Linked DNA regions of Homo sapiens: region 1 is linked to region 2. The links come from fine-mapping of genetic effects on gene expression. A gene starts in region 2. The other region holds a variant in brackets. All regions are shown on one strand. Distances are between the middles of the regions. Region 1 overlaps PTDSS2 (phosphatidylserine synthase 2). Region 2 holds the start of RNH1 (ribonuclease/angiogenin inhibitor 1).

What was found. PIP is the estimated chance that this variant, and not a neighbour inherited with it, causes the effect.
Region 1: its variant is the best candidate, but not a certain one, in a credible set for the expression of RNH1 in whole blood (TOPMed, PIP 0.76).

The regions. Positions count from the first base shown.
Region 1 is chr11:463,043-465,945 of GRCh38, forward strand. All of the region lies in intron 2 of PTDSS2 (phosphatidylserine synthase 2), which reads left to right. Among named protein-coding and RNA genes, the nearest start is that of PTDSS2, 14 kb to the left of the region's middle. The variant C/A (reference allele first, on the strand shown) is at 1,418.
Region 2 is chr11:506,073-508,975 of GRCh38, forward strand. RNH1 (ribonuclease/angiogenin inhibitor 1) reads right to left here and starts at 1,170. Exons shown (of 11, transcript NM_203387.3): 1 at 1,041-1,170. It also overlaps a transcript of LRRC56 not described here. RefSeq lists an enhancer at 439-608 and a cis regulatory region at 524.

The DNA of each region.
Region 1 (2,903 bases), 43 kb before region 2:
TGTAGTCCCAGCTACTCGGGAGGCTGAGGCAGGACAATCGCATGAACCTAGGAGGTAGAGCTTGCAGTGAGCTGAGATCGCACTACTGCACTCCACCTGCCGAAAAAGCGAGACTCCGTCTCAAAAAAAAAAAAAGAAAAGAAAAGAAAATACCTTCTAGAAATTAGGCTTAATTTTATTTTTTATTTATTTTATTTTTTTTTGAGATGGAGTCTCGCTCTGTACCCCAGGCTGGAGTGCAGTGGTGTGATCTCGGCTCACCGCAAGCTCCGTCTCCCGGGTTCACGCCATTCTCCTGCCTCAGCCTCCCGAGTAGCTGGGAATACAGGGCCCACCACCATGCCCAGACAGTTTTTGTATTTTTAGTGGAGACGGGGTTTCACCGTGTTAGCCAGGTTGGAATTTTTTTTTTTTTTTTGGTCAATGTTGACCAGGTTGGCCTCGAACGTGTAGCCTCGCCTCCCCAAGCGCCAGAACAAACAGCCTGAGCCACTGCAGCTCCCAGCCTTATTTTTTTGTTTTCAGACAGACTCTCGCTCTGTTGTCCAGGCTGGAGTGCAGTGGCACAATCCTGGTTCGCTGCAGGCTCCACCTCCCGGGTTCCCGCCATTCTCCTGCCTCAGCCTCCCGAGTAGCTGGGACTACAGGTGCCCGCCACCATGCCCGGTTAATTTTTTGTATTTTTAGTAGAGACGGGGTTTCACCGTGTTAGCCAGGATGGTCTCGATCTCCTGACTTCGTGATCCGCCCGCCTCAGCCTCCCAAAGTGCTGGGATTACAGGCATGAGCCACCATGCCTGGCCAGCCTTATTTTTAAAAATTAATATTTATGTTATTAAAGTTAAAAAGTTATAAAACTAGTGTGTCTTTATTCAGCTTGCTGTCATTGTTCTTTTTATGGATCTAACAGGTTCCCCACCTTAGGGGATGATTTTCTTTTTCTTTTTTTTTTCTTTTTTTGGAGACAGGGTCGTGCTCTGTTGCCCAGGCTGGAGTGCAGTGGCGTGATGGCCCACTGCAACCTTCACCTCCCAGGTTCAATCAGTTCTTGTGCCTCATCCTCTGTGGTAGCTGGGACTATAGCCGTGCACCGCCACGCCCCACTAATTTTTTTATATTTTGGTAGAGACAGGTTTCACCATGTTGCCCAGGCTGGTTTTGAACTCCTGAGCACAGACAGTACACCCGCCTCAGCCTCCCAAATTGCTAGGATTACAGGCGTGAGCCACTGCGCCCGGCCCCGTTTTGCTTTTCTTGAGTCAACGTTATTGACCTATAATTTACTATAATCTGTGTCTGATTCACGCGTACGGCTGATGAGTTTTAACAGACTCAGAGCCCCGTGTGCCCACCACTGCATGGGGGTGCGAAAGTGTTCACTGTTCCCTGCGCTCAGAGTGCCTCACCCCGGCTCGGG[C/A]AGTGCGGAGGCATCTCCCCTGCGCTCAGAGTGCCTCACCCCGGCTCGGGCAGTGCCAGTGCATCTGCCTGGGTGAGAGCAGGGTCTGTGCTGCCGGCCCCGGCTTCCTGTGAACGCAGTTGCTCCTCCGGCCTGGCCTCTCCCGCTGGAGGGCAGCTTCGCGGCATCCTTGCTGTGCCTGCCGGTGGGCTCACTGGGGAGCTTCCGTTGCGTGGACACGGCACCGTTCACTGATCTGCCTGTATGGGGGTGACCCTGGGGGAGAGTCCAGCTTTCCTCACCAGTCCATTACATTTTTATCCCATTTTAAACTTAGTAAATTAAACCTCTTCACACATTTTACTCAATAAAATACATGTAACATATATAAATGTAATACACTTAAAATATAAATATCCTTACTTGTAATACATATAAAACATAATGCATATAAATATACTCACAGTGCTGAAGAATAACAAAGTTGGACACAGAAACTACACAATTTCAAGACTTCCTGTCAAAAATGCACCGAAATACCGAGCCCAGAAACAGGCGCGCACGACTGCAGGCAGCCGATCCTTGACAAAGGAACAAAGGCAAGTCCATGGCGAAGGGATGGCCTTTTCAACACTGGCGCTAGAGCAACAGAACATCCACGTGCAAATCTAGACACAGACCTGACACTTCTCACAAAACCTAATTCTAAATGGATTCTAGATAAGCCTAAATGTGAAATGAGAAGCTATAAAACTTCTCTTTTTGTTTTTGAGACAGGGTCTTGCTCTGTCACCCACACTGGAGTGCAGTGGCGCAGTCACAGCTCACTGTAGCCTCCAACTCCTGGCCTCCAGCAATCCTCCTGCCTCAGCCTCCCAAGGAGCTAGGACTACCGGTGTGCACCACCACACCCAGCTACTTTTTAAAATTTTTTGTAGAGATAAAGTCTCACTGTGTTGCCCAGGCTGGTCTCAAACCCCTGCTTTGGCCTCCCAAACTGCTGGGATTACAGATGTGAGCTATCATGCCCAGGCATAATTATAAAACATCTGAGCTATCATGCTCAGCCACAATTATAAAACATCTTGGAGAAATCACAGGAGAAAGTATAGTGACCTTGGGTTTGGTGATAATAAAATACCAGTAGCACAATCCATGAAAATAAAAACTTGATCAATTGGACTTCATTACAATTAAAATTGTCTGCTGGGTGTGGTGGTTCATGCCCTTAATCCTAGCACTTTGGAAGGCCAATCTAGGAGGATTGCTTGAGGTCACAAGTTTGAGACCAGCCTGGGCAACATAGTGAGGACCACCCCCCCCCCATCTCTACTAAAAATTAGGAAAAGATAAATTGGCTAATTGTGGTAGTACATGCCTGTGGTTCCAGGTACTCAGGAGACCGAGGCGAGAGGATTGCTTGAACCCAGGAGGTCTAGGCTGCAGTGAGCTATGGTAGCACCACTGCACTCCAGCCTAGGCGACAGAGTGAGACCTTGAAAAAATT
Region 2 (2,903 bases):
TTCACCATGTTGGCCAGGCTGTTCTCGAACTCCTGACCTCAGGTGATCCGCCTGCCTCTGACTGCCCGGCCCAGTGTAACTGTTAACGGCAACATCGTGTGCAGTCTCCGGCTTGCATTCGGTTTAGTCAGCCAATCGCTAAGACGACACTTGAGACCGTTTTCAGATCTTTAGGCTTTCCACCATCCTAGAAGGGGGCCTGCCTGGTTCTAAGGCCCTTCTGAAACACTGCCAAACTGTCCTCGGGAAACGGTGCAGAAGTCCTCTGGTTTCCCCCAAGGCGCGTGGGCACCTTGGCTGGAACCTCGCCCAGTAACACGACGTGCCTGGGGCCCCTTCGTCATTTCCGCCAACCCCGGTGACAACCCTGACACCGGCCCCTAAGTGCCATTCCAGTTATGTTGCTCTCCTCCCCGCAGCCCCAGGCGGCAGCTTCGCGGCCCGGCGTCCGGTCCCCCGGTGGTCCCGGAGCGAAGCTCCGCAATGGAGAGCGGAGGACCCTCCCTCCCCGACCTCGCACGACCAAGACCGCCCACCTTTCCCCCAACGCCCGGCTGTGGGAGCCGTTCGAGTCTTCTCCGCCAGGGCGCTCCTTCCCGGGAGGCCGCTTCTTTGGGGGAATAAGGTCAAGGATTACGGGATTTGGGGAAGCAAGCTCGGCTGGGCCAGGATTGCTTGCGTAGCTCGCTGGAATCTAAGGCACTAGAGGGCTTGACGGCCACGTGAGGACGAACCACGCAGGCGCAGCCCCGCGCCCCGGGCAAGGACTTCCGGCAAGCCCCAAAGGGGAGCGTGCACCGCGATGACGTCCTCAAGGCGCGCCACGTCCGCCCGGCGGCGCAGCTGCCCAGCGCAACCTCGGCCCCGCCTCGATAGCCCCGGACCCCTGCCCCGCCCGACCCCGCCCCGCCACGGGAGCGCGCCACTCGCCCGCGCAGCAACGGCCTCAATAGCGCCAGGCCCGCGTCTACAAGAAGCCCGACCAAGGCCGGCGTGGGCGAGGCCTGGCTAGACGCTGACGCACCGCTGGAGCTACTGACCTCGGGACGACTGGCGGACGGTCGCGGGCCTGGAGACCCAGAGCGAGACGGCCTACTTCGTTCTCGAGCCAGCAGAACGGGTTGAACGTGTCGACAACCCCACCCGCCAGTCAGCGGCGCGGGCGTGTTCGAGCCGGCTCGTGGGCGTGGTCAGGTGCGTGGGCGGGGACTACTGGGCGGGGCTCGGCGCGGGGGCGGGGCCTGGCGGGAGTAGTCTCGGGGTCGGGGCGGGGCCCGGCGGGCGGGGCTCGGCTAAGCACAGTCTTGGCGCAGCGGCGGGGCCTGGTGGGGCGTGGCTCGGTGAGGGAGGTCTCGCTTGGGGGCGTGGTCTCCCCCAGTAGGCGGGGCTTGGTGCCGGGGGCGGGGTCTGGCGGGCGCGGGCGCGTGTGCGTGTTGTGGGCCTCGCACTGGCACGCAAGTCTCAGCAATTCCTGAGAATCCTCGGAGGAAGAGGCCGGGGCCCGGTGCGGCAGCGCCTTGGGGGCGGAATCGCAGGCGCGGGTCGGGCCTTGCTGGGGCGCGGGGCGCGGCCCCCGGAGAAAGCGGCCGCCTCGGGACAGGAGGGACCCGGGAGAAACCCCCCTGGGGCGGCTCCGCATGTCGGGGTCGCGACTCTAGGCGACCTTGGTAGAGGGGCTCGTTTGCGCCGAGCTCGCGACCCCCGAGGGAGCCACGGCCCCGTGAACCACGCTGCCCGTCCTGGCCACTGGCTGCCGCCTTTGTTTCGTGGGACCCCAGCCCGCAAGGCCTGCGGAGCCGCGGCCTCGTCCCGAGTGTTCTGAGCGCGGTCCGAGCTGCTCCTGCGTCCACTCTGCTGCCGACACCCGAGCGTCGCCTGGAGCCCTGGCACTGAGGGGCGCAGGCCGAGTTCCAGACCAGCCTGGGAAACGCAAAGCGACCCCACCTCCACAAAAGTGGGTTTTCTTTAAGTTTTTGACTAGTCCGCAATTCACAGAATTGACATTTTGGCAGATGAAGATTGCAAGTAAGGAAACTAACGGTATCTCAGATTTGTTCTTTAGCAATTTGCTAAACCTCTCCTCTGACTGCCTTTATTAGGTATTTGTTTTCGAGACAGGGTCTCACTCCACTGCTTAGGCTGTACTGCAGTGGCGCGATCCCAGCTCGCTGCAGCCTCCACCTCCCGGACTCCAGTGATCCTCCCGCCTCAGCCTCCCAAGTAGCTGGTACCACAGGCGCCAGCACGCCTGGCTAATTGTTGTATTTTATGTAGAGAAGAGGTCTCCCTGTGTTGCCCAGCCTGGTCTTGAATTGGGCTCAAGTGATCCTCCTGCTTCAGCCTCCCATATCGCTGGAATTACTGGCATAAGCCACTACACCCGGCCTGATCATCTTTAAAGAAGGTGGTTCTGGCCGGGCGTGGTGGCTCACACCTGTAACCCCAACACTTTGGGAGACCGAGAAGGGTGGATCACCTGAGGTCAGGAGTTCAAGACCAGCCTGGCCAACGTGGTGAAACCCCATCTCTACTAAAAATACAAAAATTAGCCAGGCATGGTGGTGGGCACCTGTAATTCCAGCTACTTGGGAGGCTGAGGCAGGAGAATCGCTTGAACACGGGAAGCAGAGGTTGCAGCGAGCCTAGACCACACCATTGCACTCCAGTTCGGGCAACAAGATGAAACTCTGGCTGGGCGCGGTGGCTCACACCTGTAATTCCAACACTTTGGGAGGCCAAGGCAGGCAGATCACCTGAGGTCAGGAGTTCAAGACCAGCCTGGCCAAGATGATGAAACCCCATCTCTACTAAAATTACAAAAACTTAGCCAGGCATGGTGGTGCATGCCTGTAATCCCAGCTACTCAGGAGGCTGAGGCAGGAGAACCACTTGAACCCAGGAGG